Linked DNA regions of Homo sapiens: all the other regions are linked to region 1. The links come from fine-mapping of genetic effects on gene expression. A gene starts in region 1. Each other region holds a variant in brackets. All regions are shown on one strand. Distances are between the middles of the regions. Region 1 holds the start of BDP1 (BDP1 general transcription factor IIIB subunit). Region 2 has its middle 96 kb from the start of CARTPT. Region 3 overlaps BDP1 (BDP1 general transcription factor IIIB subunit).

Evidence for each region. PIP is the estimated chance that this variant, and not a neighbour inherited with it, causes the effect.
Region 2: its variant is the best candidate, but not a certain one, in a credible set for the expression of BDP1 in subcutaneous fat (FUSION, PIP 0.61).
Region 3: its variant is the best candidate, but not a certain one, in a credible set for the expression of BDP1 in whole blood (INTERVAL, PIP 0.80).

Annotation. Positions count from the first base shown.
Region 1 is chr5:71,453,090-71,458,316 of GRCh38, forward strand. It overlaps BDP1 (BDP1 general transcription factor IIIB subunit), which reads left to right and starts at 2,562. Exons shown (of 39, transcript NM_018429.3): 1 at 2,562-3,000. The coding sequence starts at 2,789. RefSeq lists enhancers at 1,497-2,423, 2,424-3,349.
Region 2 is chr5:71,813,008-71,818,234 of GRCh38, forward strand. No RefSeq gene overlaps it. Among named protein-coding and RNA genes, the nearest start is that of CARTPT, 96 kb to the left of the region's middle. The variant G/A (reference allele first, on the strand shown) is at 2,491.
Region 3 is chr5:71,519,213-71,524,439 of GRCh38, forward strand. BDP1 (BDP1 general transcription factor IIIB subunit) reads left to right here. Exons shown (of 39, transcript NM_018429.3): 23 at 3,077-3,278; 24 at 3,544-3,737; 25 at 4,727-5,111. Among named protein-coding and RNA genes, the nearest start is that of MCCC2, 66 kb to the right of the region's middle. The variant C/G (reference allele first, on the strand shown) is at 2,596.

The DNA of each region.
Region 1 (5,227 bases):
CTTAAGTGGAACAGAAGACCATCTGGGGAAAGGCCCTGTGTCTTCAGTTGGTATCAGAATATGCTGTTCAAAGCTGTGTAGACCTGGCAGTGGCTCCAAGATTCCTGAGACATCTTTAGCAGGGTATTCTCTCGAATTCTTGAGCTTCTTTAAATAAAGAAGATAAAACTGAGATACTGTTCCTTTTCCAGAGTATTGCAGGGAGCCCACGGAATCCACAGACCTCCTCTTTTCTCTTCCTTCCTTCCTTCCTTTCTTTCTCTCTCTCTTTTTTTTTTTTTTTTTGAGACAGGGTCTCACTTTGTCACCCAGGCTGTAGTGCTGTGGTGTGATCTTGGCTCACTGCAACTTCCGCCTCCTGGGCTCAAGCAATCCTCCAACCTCAGCCTCCTGAGTAGCTGGGATTACAGGCAGAAGCCACCATGCTCAGCTAATTTTTGTAATTTTGGTAGAGATGAGGTTTCACCATGTTGGCTAGGCTGGTCTTAAACTCCTAGGCTCAAGTGATTCGCCTGCCTCAACCTCCCAAAGTGCTGGGATTACAGGCACGAGCTGTGCCTGGCCTCCAGACCTTCATTTTCTTCATAGTCTTAGAGATATATGTTTTCTCTTCTCTGCTTTCAGTCTTGCCTTCCTACTCTCAAAAGCACTTGCCTCTTTTTTGTTCTCCCTTTAGGTGATCAATTTCTTCAGTCAGTTCAGAATTTTATTCCTTTGACCTTTTGTTATTAATGTATCACCATATTCTTGTAGGATTTTCTTTTCCTTCTAAGAAGAAAGTCAGGCCTTTGTGTTCCCATGAGTCAGGGGATTTGTATCACTGGTTCAAACATTGGCCCAATACCTCCAAGGCCAACCTCAGCTCTGGCTATTTTTCCTCTCATCATAGAGGACTTCCCTAGCCACTCTACTGCCAGCCTCCCTCCCATTACTTTCTATCACATCATCCTGTACATTTCTCTCTTTTTTTTCTTCTTATTATTAAATTTTTGTTTTAAGGACAAGGTTTCACTTTGTCACCCATGCTGGAGGGCAGTGGCACTATCATAGCTCACTGCAGCCTGGACCTCCTGCCTCAGCCTTCCAGGTAGCTGGAGCTAGAGGTGGGAGCCATCACAGCCACCGCATGTAGGTAATTTGTTTTAGGGGTCTCAATATTTTGAGCAGGTTGGTCTGGAAGTCTTGGGCTCAAGAGATCCTCCCACTTCAGTCTCCACAGTAGCTGGGATTATAGGCGTGCCTCGCCATACCCGGCATTCAACCCTTAAATTTATTTCATGACATTTGATATACTTTATTTTATTGCAATTAATTAATTAATTCATTTATTTTAAGACAGAGTCTCACTCATTCTGTTGCCTAGGCTAGAGTGCAGTGGTGCCATCTTGGCTCCCGGCAGCCTCCACCTCCAGGGTTCAAGCCATTCTCCTGTCTCAGCCTCCCATAGCTGGGATTACAGGCTTGCACCACCAGGCCTGGCTCATTTTTGTATTTTTAGTAGAGATGGAGTTTAACCATGTTGGCCAGGCTGGTCTCGAACTCCTGACCTCAAGCAATCTGCCTTGCCTTAGCCTCCTAAAATGCTGGGATTACAGGCATGAGGCACCCACGCCGGGCCTGATACATTTTAAAAATATCTTGTTCATTTCTTTTTTGTATTTTCTCCTCCCAAATCCAGAACGTCTTGTTTACTGCTACCTCCTGAAGCAGATTAAGAACACTCACAATAATTTACAAGGTTTCAACTATAATAATTTTTAAACAGGCTGGAGTGTAGTGGTACGATCTCGGGTGATACATTCATATTAAAAAGTACACAAGGAGGTTGGGCGTGGTGGCTCACGTCTGTAATCCCAGCACTTTGGGAGGCCAAATGGGTGGCTCGCTTGAGCCTAGGAGTTCAAGATCAGCCTAAGCAACATGATGAACCCCGTCTCTACTAAATATACGAGAAAAAAAAAATTAGCCGGGTGTCGTGGCGCGTGCCTGTGGTCCCAGCAACTTGGGAGGCTGTGACGGGAGGATCGCCTGAGCCCGAGAGGTGGAGGCTGCAGTGAGCCAAGATCGCGCAACTGCACACTCCAGCCTAGGCGACAGAGCAAGACCCTGTCTCAAAGGACAAAAACAAAAAAGTACACAAAGGCGTACGGTAAATGGTCTTCCTACCACGACGTGTTTTCCAGAAACACATTCCTCTCCTGGGAGGTAACTATTATCAGTTTCTTCACACCAGCATTTTTAATCTATGTCTACTCAATTTAGAATTTCTAAACCCTTCAGGATCTTCAAAAGACAAAATCGGCCAGCGATTTTAATAGTTCCAGTAAAGGTTTGAGCAGAGAAGTGGACTTTCTTCTGTTCCTCTTTTCAACTACTCCTAAGGACTCCTGGAGAAGAAAGAGCAAATATCTCTGCATCTCAATTTCTGGTCCGCAGGTAACCCAGTCTCAGTAGCTTGGTAGTTACCATGGCTCCCAGTGCTGTGCGTCTGACGTCATTCTGCGGCGCTGGCTGATGGCGCAATCAGTTGCGGCGTCCTGTGAGCGCGGGGATGCTGGGAGGAGGGTGAAATTTAGCCATCGGTGTGTGGCAGGGTCATGAAAAAGCGGCGGCGGCGGGAGAGAGGAGGAGGCGGCGGCGGGGCAGTGAAACTACGGTAGCTGCCCCCTGAGCTGGTGGTGTGGCTTTGTGGGGAGGGCGTAGTTCCTAATCCCCTTTCCGGGCAGCCGCCGGGGCTCGGGGCTGTGAGCGGCCGTGAGGCTGCCTCCCCGGGCCCCCTGCCTCCGCCATGTTCCGCAGGGCACGCCTTAGCGTGAAGCCGAATGTCAGGCCTGGTGTAGGCGCCAGGGGCTCCACAGCTTCCAATCCCCAGCGTGGACGGGAGTCTCCCAGGCCGCCGGATCCTGCCACGGACTCTGCTTCCAAGCCCGCGGAGCCCACAGATGTGCCCACAGTCGATTTCGGTGGAGCGGAGCCCCAAGAAAAGGCTCCTAGGAGCAGGTAAGAGGTTGCAGAGGGAAGAATTTTCATTTGTCCCGCCTCTCCGGGCATGTCACCTGGAAGCTGAGCAAATGAATTTTATCACAGGAGTCCGCTCTCGTTTGCAGTAAGCCTTTCAGTTGAGGCTTGATGAAACCACTCCAAACTGCAGTTTAGTTGTCTGACCTGCAGGGTGTGGCTTGTGTGGATTTTGTCACGGTCTATAGATTCTCCGAGAGGAGACCATGTCTTCAAGTGGTGGTAGGGAGAATCGGGGTATGGCAGTCCTGAAGTGAAGAATATCCACACTATTCATTTGAGAATTTAGGTCACTATAGTTTTCATCCTTCTGGAGTGCTTTGCAGGGAAGTGTTTTTGTCTTTCAATTTATAAAATATTTATTTTTTAAAGGAGAAGATAAGTATTGCTTTGGCTTTACCGATTTATGTCAGTGAGTAAGAGTTCTGGTCACTTAATTGAAGTGTGCCTCTTTAACTATGGTGACCGTGTTTCCTGAATAGAGAAGCATGGCTTTAGCGTCATGTATCATATTTGGATTCAGGACTCTTTTAGTCTACAGGTAAACTTTTCTCAGGCAGAATTTGCTCATCTGCAAAATGGGAATAATATTGCCTACTTGGAGCGTTTTGGTGCAGATTGGAGATAATTCATATTAACTACCTTGCAGGGGATATAGCAGAATAGTTGCCCGCAAAAAGTTACTAGTTTTTTAGAAAGGTGATGGAGTAAATTTAAGACATGTTAGGCTAAGATGGTCTCTGTTTCTATATATATGAGGAAATCAGTAAACAGCCTTGTTAAGTGAAGTGAGATAGTACAAATTCTGTTTATGCTGTGATAGGAAGGTGAAACATTTATTTATTTTTGGAACATCTTCCTCTATTGGCCTGAACTGGTGCTGAGTGTATGGTGTTACGTTGATAGTTCAGTGATGGTTAGTAATTTCCAAGTTTATTACATGAATCTGTTTCAAAATTTCTACACAGAAAGGAGATACCGATACTAGTCGCTGTTACATTAATAAAGTTCTCAGAGATTTCGTTAATTATGTGTGAGTGCGTGATGGTTGATAATTTAATAAATTGCCCAAAGATTGTAGTTTTGAGATATTTATGGTCAAGGATATTTAATTTTTTTTTTTGAGTTGACATTTACGTTTGGGGAATATAATTTGTTTTTTAGTCACTTTTTTTGCCATTACTGACTCTGGGAAAGTGGTTTTTTTTTTTTTTTTTAATTAGTTTTTTTTTTAGATGGAGTCTTGCTCTGTCGCCCAGGCTGAAGTGCAGTGGTACGGCTCACTGCAACCTCCACCTCCCGGGTTCTTGCAATTCTCCTGTCTCAGGCTCCCAAGTATCTGGGACTACAGGCGTGCCCCACCACGCCCAACTAATTTTTGTATTTTCAGTAGAGACAGGGTTTCACCATGTTGGCCAGGCTGGACTCGAACTCCTGACCTCAAGTGATCCACCTGCCTCAGCCCAAAGTGCTGGGGTTACAGGTGTGAGCCACCGTGCCCAGCCTCTTTTTATTTTTTTGTGGGTCTTTGCTAGTTGTAAAACTCTATAGGATATATATTCTGTCATTATGCATTCAACATAATTGGGTGAAATGCAGATAATGCATGTATCCATAACAGCTAAGATACGAATTTAAATTGAAGTCTTCCTGGAAAGGTTATTCTATAAGTTAAGGCATTTTCTAATTTTTTATAAGTAATTATAAAATAGGAAAAAAGTAGACTGTTTTTAATTATTGACTTATACCACCTCTTTTCTTGACTTAAGTTGCATTTATAGACCATTCCTGAAATACTTATATCTGAGGTATACCATACCTAATATGCAATTTGGGGTGACTGAGTACTTTTTTTGACTGAAGTTTATTCTGATGGCTGTATAAGTAGAGTTGTACCTGACAAAAGATAAATGATTTCTGCCTCAAAGGGAATTGGGTTTGGCTACTGTAACTAAATGTTTTTCTTCAAATACTGCAATACAGATATTTCAGAGGTTTGGAGTTTTGCATATTTGATTTGACTGACCTCGGGTTGATAAGTAAAGTAAAATGCCGGTAGTTTAGACCAGTTTAAAATGTCAGAGTGAATTAAAATTTTTTTAAATTTTATATAGAAATTAATTATAAATTATTACTTTGTTACTTAGTAATTCAAATTAGGTTGACTAAGCTTTGTTCTGTAAGTTGGTTATTTGTTTTGAGGGGGGTA
Region 2 (5,227 bases), 360 kb after region 1:
CCTCTCATTTGAACTTTGAAAGCCAGAATTCAGGAAAAACTTGGTCCATATTTATTTTAAATGCAGATTCTCAGGTCCCACCCCTGCCATCAGAAAAAGAGTCTCAGGCTGGGCTTGAGATTACCTCTCTAGGTAATCTTAATGTGCGTTAAAGTCAAATAAACACTATTTTATGTCATTTTTGTTACTGAATAAGATGTGATGTGATTTCAAGCACATCCCTAGAGAGTATTAAATGGAGGATTCAGGGAAATTAGGTATCTGGGTGACTCAAATGTTTTATATTAAAATGTGTAATGCATCTTATTTGCTAGCCATGGTTCATTTATATGGTCTCATGATCCTCACTTCCTAGTACTTTTTAGGTACAGCATACTGAATATGTGCTTGAATCTTTAAACCAATATCATCAGCTCCAGAGTAAGTGTTGGGAGTCACACTGGGAGACTTTGGAAGTGCTAAAATGGGATTTCAGTTTGACTGAGAAGCTCCTTGGATTTTCCAAGGTGAATTTTTTTCCGCTTCCAGTTTAGATTAACTTGCTCTCAATTTTTATAATAGAAAGATCACAGAGAACTGACTCTTTCCTACAGCTGTTAAAGATAGCTAATTAGGATAGGTGTGAACTGGTAGCTCATTAGCCCCTTTGAGTTTCCCAGCTGCAAAGGTCAGGGCAGACTAGCTACTATCACAGGGTCAGAGTGTGAATGGCAGCTGGTCAGGAAAGATAAATATGACAAGATGTGGAGCAAAGCAAGGTTATTATTACAAAAGGTGTCACCCAGATAATAGTGGAACTTAACCAGTGAAAAATCACTCAAATCATGACCCAGCCCAAAAGGAAAATAACCCCTATGCTTCCAGAATTTATTGCAGCATTGTGATTGTTTGCCCGTTAACATTTCACTTGTGGAATGAAATAGTTGGGAATGCTGACTATAAAATGAAATTGTTTCTTAATTCTTCTCAAAGTATTCTAAGCATTATGGAATGACCAGTTTATTAGGTCTCTGGGGAAATAAATATGACTTACATCCTCTTTGAAATGTAGACCCCACCATTCTCTTTTTCTTCTCTCTCCCTCTCATGCGTGCGCTTACTCTGTTTTTATCTCTTTTTCTATGTCTCCCCAAGCTCATGAATAATGTTCTTAGGAATCATTGAAGAACCATGCTAATGAGGACTTGAATTTCCAGTACTTTACACAATGTAGCATATTCTTGTTGACAGTACATCTCTACTGTGGCTCTATTTGGAAAGAATGCCTTATTCCAGGAAGAAGGTCTTCATGAACCTCTGGAACTTCATCTTCCATTTTATCATTTCACCACTTCATGAGATGGAATACTGCAGTTGTTCAGATCAAAATATCATATGGCCAGCGTCGTCCACCATGCAATCTCATTCAACTTTCATTAAAGTATCACAATAGCACAGAAAATGAAGACAGAGAAAATAGGGAAATTCTGCCTTAAAAAGAATAAAAATGGATGACACATGCCAGATTTTTGGAGGAATCTCTGCTCATCATGTGAGAGACAAATGGAGTAGATTTGAGGAATGCCTTATGGCACACCCAGGTTTTAGGTCACACAAGAGTGACACAGGAAAAATGTAGAGTCTAGACCTTCTCTGTTCTTTACTCCCTCAGGCAGAAACCCAAGGTTTGTGTCCATCAGAATATAGTGTAGCTGCCTTATCTTGCAGGTGTTGACCCATTAAGTGGCCAAGTACTCTTTTCCCATCACTTCCGCAGCCCATTACCTCATTTTTCTGCATGTATAAGAGGGAGCAATCCCAGACAACAGTGGGAGGAATTAGGAGTGTGTTGTTGATTAGAGATTGTTTATATTTTGGGCCACGCATGATGGCTCACACCTGTAATCCCAGCACTTTGGGAGGCCAAGGTGGACGGATCCCTTGAGTCCAGGAATTTGAGAACACCCTGGGCAAGGTTAAGGTCTCCCAGCATGGGAGACCCCATCTCTACTAAAAATACAAAAAAATTAGCTGGGTGTGGTGGCACATGCCCGTAGTCCCAGCTACTTGGGGGCTGAGGTGGGAGGATCACCTGAGCCGGGGCTGTAGTGAGCCGAGATCACATCATTGCGCTCCAGTCTGGGTGGTGGGAGTGAGACTTGGGAGAGAGAGAGAGAGAGAGAGACTGTCTGTATTTTTGTAGGAGTAATGTCTTACCTTGGTTTGGGTTTTCCCAGCAGCAGACATTGAGACAGTAAAGCCAATCACTTTTTTGTGAGGTGGGGGATGGAGGAAGGATCACAAAAGGTGTGGCAGGGAAGAAATGACCCAGGGGGAGAGGGCAGCAAATAATGGTTCTTACAAAACAAGTTACTGCTAAGGTAATCAGAGTTTAATCTCTCTGAGGAACACTGAGTGGTCGTCTAAAACATGGGCCTTGGAGTTATCCCACCTAGGAAGTGAGGGAACTGGGATATTTATACTCCAGTTGCCATCAGTTATTAATCAAAG[G/A]CTGCTCCTGGGGCCACGGTGTAATTTCCCTGGCACATCTGGCCTGCTGTGCACAGGAGCAGAGTAGCTCTGTAGGTCAGAGGAAACCCCCAGGCAAATGAATCTAGGCGCTGACAGGTAGAAGGTTAGTGTGCTCTGCAGTGTTAAGGGTGAGGGGCTCTGGGCAGGGCACTGACAGTGTCAACTGCAGTCAAGACCTTGTTCCACTCAGATCCACCTGTGTCCTGTGTTAGGCTTACTCTATCCTATCACTGCTTCTTCAAGGTCACAAATAAACATTAAAAAAAAAAAAAAAAGACAACAGGAGCATTAGTGGGCCAGGATCTCACTGTCTACTGCTGCAGTCTTTCCCACGATGTTCATTGATCAGCTCTCTTCTATTCTACCCTTTGTAGACCCTCCAGCCCCTTGGCCAGCATTTCTACTGGTTTAGATTGCTTACCTTATGGAATAACGCAGACCTTTTTCTCTGAGAGGTCTAAGTCCCAGATTAGGAGGGATTTTTTTTTTTCGATGCAATCCTATGTCCTGGCAGGTCTGATATTATCCATGCCATAGAAGGCAGTGCTGGTTGCACAGTCACTTGATGTCCCAAGCTCAGGTACTCAGTCATTTCATGGCCACAGCAGCACTCAGGAGCTGCTTTCTGAATGAAGAGTTGTCTTTTGTGGGTGTCATGGACTTGCTCTAGACCTCTGGGGCTCTCATTGTGGTTCTCCCATTGAGGCTTGTCAAAGATTCTAGTGAGTCTAGCAGCATGGAATCTTCTGGGTCACAGAGCTAAACACTAGAGTTACTTGTGCCACAACCTGGACCAGTTCCAGTGCCCTCACTTGCTCCATGCCTACTCTATTAGTTTGCTTGGGGTGCCATAACAAAATACCACACACTGGGTGGCTTAAACAGCAAAAACCTGTCCAGTTCTGGAGGCTGGACGGTCTGAGGTCTAGGTGTCAGCAGGTCTGGTCTCTTTGGAGGCCTCTCCCTGGCTTGCAGATGGCCCGCCTTCTTGCTGTGCCCTCTCGGGGACTTTCCTCTGTGCGTCAGCTTCTTGGCACTTCCTTGTGTGTCCAGGTTTCCTCTTCTTATAAGAACACTAGTCAGACTGGATTAGAACTCATTTTAATGAACTTATTTTAACTAATTCATCTCTTAAAGGCCCTATCTCCAAATATACTCACATTCTGAGGTACTGGAGGTTAGGGTTTTGACGGATACATTTTGCAGGGACGCATTTGACCCATAATACCCACTCAAAACCAGAAGTGTTCTGACTCACTACTAAATGAGTTGAAGCAGTATTCACAAGTGTGGTGGATATGGTCTCCCAAATCTGAAGAGGTCCACTGGGCATTGTACCACTTTCTTAGTGGTAGGAGGTAGAAAGTGCACACATTTGTTCGCCCCTTGGAGGAGTGACCTGGCATGTCTCAAACCACGGGGCCCCTGAAAGCTTTATTGACCGCAGCAAAGCCTTGATTGTGTGTAAGCTTCCTCTTCCACTCTCTGATCCAGATATACCTGACCAGAATGCTTACCATTCCTGTCCCCCAGGCACAATTAAATGATGTTGCCAGCACAGTGAAACCTTGAGATTTCCTATAGAATATCCCGATGATCCCAATCCCGTTAAGCTTTATTGCAATCTAGCCATGAGGGCATGACAGTGAATGTATGTATCTGTCTGTTCTAAGTGACAGCAAACTGCTTTTGATGCTCCTTTCTAGAAGGGATTGAAGAGAATGCATTTTCCAATTTAGTAGTGTTACACCAAGTACCAGAGACCATGTTGATCTGCTGTAGTAAAAATACTGCATCTGGAACAGCAGTTGTGGTTGGGGTTAATACTTGGTCATGATAGTCCACCATAAAATGCATGACCCAACTGGCTTTTTCTAGAAGACAGACTGGTACACTAAATGGGGATACGAAGGGACTGCCATCCTAGCCTCCTTTATGTCTTTGAGGGTAGCCCCAATCTCTGCCATTCTTCCTGTGATGAAGCATTGCTTCTCATTTTCTTGTCAGGGCAGAGGGGGGCAATTTCAAGGTTTTCACCAGGCTTTTCCTATAATACCTCAGTGAAGAGACACCACACATGCTATTTTAACAGAAAGGACTTAATGTAAGGAATTATTAAGTAGTTATTTAAAAACTGGAAAGGCAAAGAGAGAACACTAAGATATCTCAGCTACCACGCTTACACCTGGGGGAACAAGGGAAGAAGTTGGAATTATTGATAGGTAAAAGCTTGCAGTAGAAGCTGAATCTCAGACCTCTGAAAGGGGACCACTGCTCAGCTTATGTTGATGACTCTGAGCTCAGAGGAGGCATCCCCTGGGGCTGTGACCCAGAACTCTGAGGAAAAGGTCCTGGTCAGCTGTGCTGGTGTTTCTGGGGACCATGGTGAGACTGGTCCTGCCAGTGTTGGAAATCCTGCAAACTGAATGCATGCTGTGACTGCAAATGCCGAGGGGAGCAGTGAGACTGAGGTGCTGTGACAAGAACACGAAGTACACGTCTTCTTATTCCTCAAGTTTCCCGTATTGGAAGAGCTGAATGTAGAGCCAGCTGGCAAAGCAGAAATGTGGCTTTCCGAGCCGCAGCCCCAGCATCACAAAGCAGAACATAGAAGTGTGTGTGTGGGAGGCAGAAGAGGTAGGGGTGGGTTGAACCTGAGAGACAATAGCTTAAAAACTATTACAGGGCTCTTATTCCAGAGATCAGGCAACCAATA
Region 3 (5,227 bases), 66 kb after region 1:
ATTTTTGGACTACATGTGATATTTTGATACATTATACACAATATATAATTACCAGATCAGAGTAACTGGGATATCCATCACTTCATACTTTTATCTTTATATTGGCAACATAATTTTCTAGCTATTTTGAAATAATACAATAAATGATTGTTAACTATAATTTTTCCTACTGTACTACTGAATACCAGAACTTATTCCTTCTATCTAACTGTATTTTTATACACACTAACCAGCTTCTCATTACTCCCTTCCCTCTTGCCTTCCTAGCCTCTGGTGAGCACCATTCTAATCCCTACCTCCATGAGATCCACTTTTTAAGCTGCTACATATGAGTGAGAACCAGCAATATTTGTCTTTCTGTGCCTGGCTTATTTCACCTAACATAATGACCTCTAGTTCCATCTATGTCACTGTGAATGACAGGATTTCATTCTTTTTTATGGTTAAATAATATTCCATTGTGTATATATACCACACTTTCTCACTTTCTTTATTCATTTGTTGCTGGACACTTAGGTTGATATTATGTGTTGGCTATTGTGAATACCACTGCAGTAAACATGAGAGTTCAGATATCTCTTTGATACAGTGATTTCCTTTCTTTTGGACATACACCTGGCAGTAGGATGGCTCAATCAAATGGTAGTTCTATTTTTAGTTTTTTGAGGAACTTTCATACTTTTTTCCATAATGGCATTCCTACTTTATATTCCCACGAACAGCCTATGAGTTTTCCCATTTCTCCACATCCTGACCAGTATTTGTAATTTTTTGTCTTTTTAACAGTAGCCATTTTAACGGCAGTAGGATATCTCAGTGCAGTTTTGATTTGCGTTTCCGTGATGATTAATGATGTTGAACATTTTGTCAGACACCTGTTGGCCATTTGTATGTCTTTTGAGAACTGTCTGTTCTCTTTTGCCTATTCTTTAATCAGATTATTTGTTTTTTTGCTATTGAGTTGTTTTTGTTCCTTATATATTCTGGTTATTAACTTTTGTGAGATGGATAGTTGGGAATTTTTTCTCCCATTCTGTAGGTTGTCTCTTCACTTTGTTGATTGTTCCCTGTGCTATGCATTGAAAAGTCTTTCCATATTGCTTTTATTTTAAGATTAAGGCCAATTTTTACTTCACATTAATTTTAGGTTCCCTTAGCCATTTTTTCAGTTTTTAAAACTGGATATTTTATTGAAATGTTTTTTACTAAAATGCATTAGACTTATATTACAAATGCTATATTGGATTAGGTTGATGATTGATCTCAGAGCAATTTAACTCTGATAATGTCTAGGAAACATTACAGATGAATTTGTTTACATCATTCACTTCTCCTAATTACTAATTATGGGATTATTTTCTATGTATAATCCCTTTTTGATCTCAAAGAATTATAGAATTTTACCACTGAAAATAACCTTATATACTCATTTATTCCACAAACATTTTAGTGTCTGCTGTGTGCCAGGCATTGTTCTAAGTGCTGATGATGTAGGAATAAATGAAGAAAAAAATGCTGTCACTGTGGAGTTTATATTCTAATTGAGAAACAGATTATAAATGAGAAATAAGTTGAATAAATAAGTGATAAATCAGTAGAGAAAAATAAAGTTTTGAGTAGGGAGTGTTGTGACTGGGGATTCACTTTTTAATCAGCAGTGACCAGAGAAAGCTTCATTGAAAGGGTGCATTGAAGGCCGGGCATGGTGGCTCACACCTGTAATCCCAGCGCTCTGGGAAACCAAGGCGGGCGAATCACCTGAGTTCGGGAGTTTGAGACCAGCCTGACCAACATAGAGAAACCCCATCTCTACTAAAAATACAAAATTAGCCAGCCGTGGTGGCGCATGCCTGTAATCCCAGCTACTTGAGAGACTGAGGCAGGAGAATCGCTTGAACCTGGAGGCGGAGGTTACAGTGAGCCGAGATCGCACCATTGCACTCCAGCCTGGGTGACAAGAGCGAAACTCCGTCTCAAAAAAAAAAAAAAAGATTAGTTTTTAATGCAGATCTTTCAGAGAACTCAAGATAGGTACTTATATATCCAGTTATTCTTTATAAATATTCAGGTTTATATTAGTTTTTTTTTTTTTTTTTGGAGACAGAGTTTTGCTCTTGTTGCCCAGGCTGGAGTGCAGTGGTGCAACTTCGCCTCACTGTAACCTCCACCTCCCAGGTTCAAGTGATTCTCTTGCCTCAGCCTCCCGAGTAGCTGGGACTTCAGGCATGCACGACCATGCCCAGCTAATTTTTTATTTTTGGTAGAGATGGGGTTTTTCCATGTTGGTTAGGCTGGTCTCAAACTCCCGACCTCAGGTGATCCGCCCACCTCGGCGTCCCAAAGTGCTGGGATTACAGGCGTGAGCCACCGTGCCTGGTCTCTATTAGTTTTTAAGCTTCCTAATTCAGATCTTTGCCAGTTGCTAAAATATTGTCCAGGAAACCATTAGATAGCTATTCAGGTTACCTTGGGAGCTCTGGCTACTCTCTTGAATGCTAAAACGTCTTTTTGTTATTTGGCAGATACAGACGGATTATATTGAGAACCTTATGACATTGGTTGTCAGTAAACCCTTTTTAGTGAGAGTTCAGGCAT[C/G]TGTTAGGAGAATAGACTCTACCCTTCAAGTCTACTTTAGAACTAGAAGTATCGAGTTGGTTATAACTGTCATATATTTGTTCATGCTTTGGGGGCCCAGTTGAAGGCATGTGTTTAAAGTGCCATTATGAAATCCATCTTCAGCTACTTGCCTTTTTTTTTTTGGTATCCTGTGATTTCTCTGAAAATTAAAGTAGCATGAAATCATATAATAGAATGAATAAATGAAAGTTTAAAAAGATTAATATTATTGTAAAACTTTTTCAGGCTCTATAGAAAATGGAAGCTATAAATGCTTTATAAGTTCTTTTCATATCAGCAATGTGTGGTTTCATTTTACATGCTTGATTTTATTGCCAATTTATATATAGTCCTTTGAACATAGAATTGATTTGTATCCAAAATTGTTTGATGTAACAGCTGTTATATCAACAAGAAATTCTGATTTTTGTTCTTCAACATGATTCATACTTCATTCTAGACATGAAAATAAACCGTATGTTCCTAGTTCAGCACAAATGACAAGAAGGAAATTCCAAAAGGCTAAGCCAAATTTGGGAAGAGCACACAGTAAGAAAGAGGAACCAGTTTTAGAAAAAGTCACAACAGATCAGAGCAAGGAAGGCAAGCCAGAAGATCATTTGCTGCAGAAAGGAGCTTCCAACACCCAGCTCCTTCTAAAAGTAAGTTTGGGCAAAAAAAAAAAAAAAATTTTTTTTCTCAATGAGGTCTGTTTTGTCAAGATCATGAAGAGCATGAGTAAAATACAGTTTTGACTTCTGTACTGTAACCATTTTCATGAAAAGTGACTTTCTAGTGTTGTAAAAGATGAGCAACCAACTGCTTGTAGATATGTGTAAACTTAGAGGTTTAGGCCAAACTACCAAACCAAATTAACATAGAGATTGTTTCTGTAGTAATACTAGCTAATTTCTTCTTAAATTTAAGGAAAAAGCTGAGCTTCTGACATCTCTGGAGGTTTCAGCAAGAAAAGATTGTGTAGGTTCCAAAGAGTCTGCTTTGGCAAAAATAGATGCGGAATTAGAAGAAGTTGGACCATCAAGAAGGGTTGGAGAGGAAACTGTAGGAGATAATTCACCATCTTCAGTTGTTGAAGAGCAATATCTCAATAAACTAACAAGGTAACATTTTATTTAACAAAATGTTTCACAATAAGAAATAAAAATCACTTAACTTTTACCTTAACTTACTGGTAGAACAAAATTTTTGGGTGTTGAGTCCATTAGACATGGGTAGAAACTTGACCAAAGAGGAGTATGTATGTATTAGCTAAGTAATTAAGGTGCTCATTCAAATGGAGTCACAAACACAAATAAAGAATACCCTACTTCTATAGTTTTCAAAGAAAATGGAAAGAAACTTAAGTTCTAGAAACCAGCACTGCTCTAGTGGATTTCTGCTGCCTCCTTTTTCTTTTAACCTATCTGTTTACCCAGTAGGATAAACTAATACCACATTTGATCTCATATTCTGTATTTATTGGTCCTGTGTCTTTTTTTGTTTTTGAGACAGTTTCACTCTTCTCGCGCAGGCTGGAGTACAATTGCGTGACTCGGCTCACTGCAACCTCCACCTCCCAGGTACAAGTGATTCTCCTGCCTCATCCTCCCGAGTAGCTGGGATTACAGGCGTGCACCACCGTGCCCAGCTAATTTTTGTATTTTTAGTGGAGATCAGGTTTCACCATGTTGGCCAGGCTGGTCTTGAACTCCTGACCTCAAGTGATCTGCCTGCCTCGTCCTCCCAAAGTGCTGGGAGTAGAGGCGTGAGCTACTGCGCCCAGCCGGTTCTGTGTCTTTTATCCCTTTTTCTTCTAATAATTTTCAGTTTTGTGTTTATTTTATCTTCACTTTCATATTACAGGAAAGAATGGTCCAGAATTAAAAACTTACTATGAAAAATTTGTAGGTAGATAACTAAGAATTAACTCTGAGTGAGAAACTAGTAGTTAATTCCTTTTTTATTTTCACAGCATAAGATTTTAAAAGAATGGGTGGTGGGAATTTTCATTTTAATGACTGGAACTGGAATTTCACTCTAAAAGTTTGGTTTTCATTAAAATTATCCTTGCATGCATATGACCTTATTGTTGTTTTGATTAAATATCTAGCTGTCCACAACCGTTAAACGAAACAAGTTACTCTAAAATTGCCCTGGATGGGAAAACAACTATCTCTTCTACATCTGAGTATGAGAGAAATCGTGGTGAAAGGAGAAGTCATAAAAAGTTCAAACCAAATGTCACCAGAGGTCGTGGATCAAAACGAGTTCGGGGTAAGACCTCTAAGAAGGAACCTAGAGCTTCCAAGGCCATGCTGGTGACTCTTCGGGCTTCCCAGGAAGAAGATGATGATGCTGACGATTTTGAGTCTGACTATGAGGAAGAAAGCTATCATCTTGCTCCCGAAGAAGTAAACAAAGCTCCAGTATTTGTACCTGTTGGTCTCAGATCTCCTGAACCTGTTTCTGCTCAGATTGAGGAAACAATGGAAGAGGTTCGGTTTTTTTTTAAAACCTTGGTACTTTATCTTACTTGGTTTTCACCTCTTGTTTCTTTTAGGGGATCATTATTTCTTCTCGTAGTGATTATTAGGATTTGAAGAGTTCATTC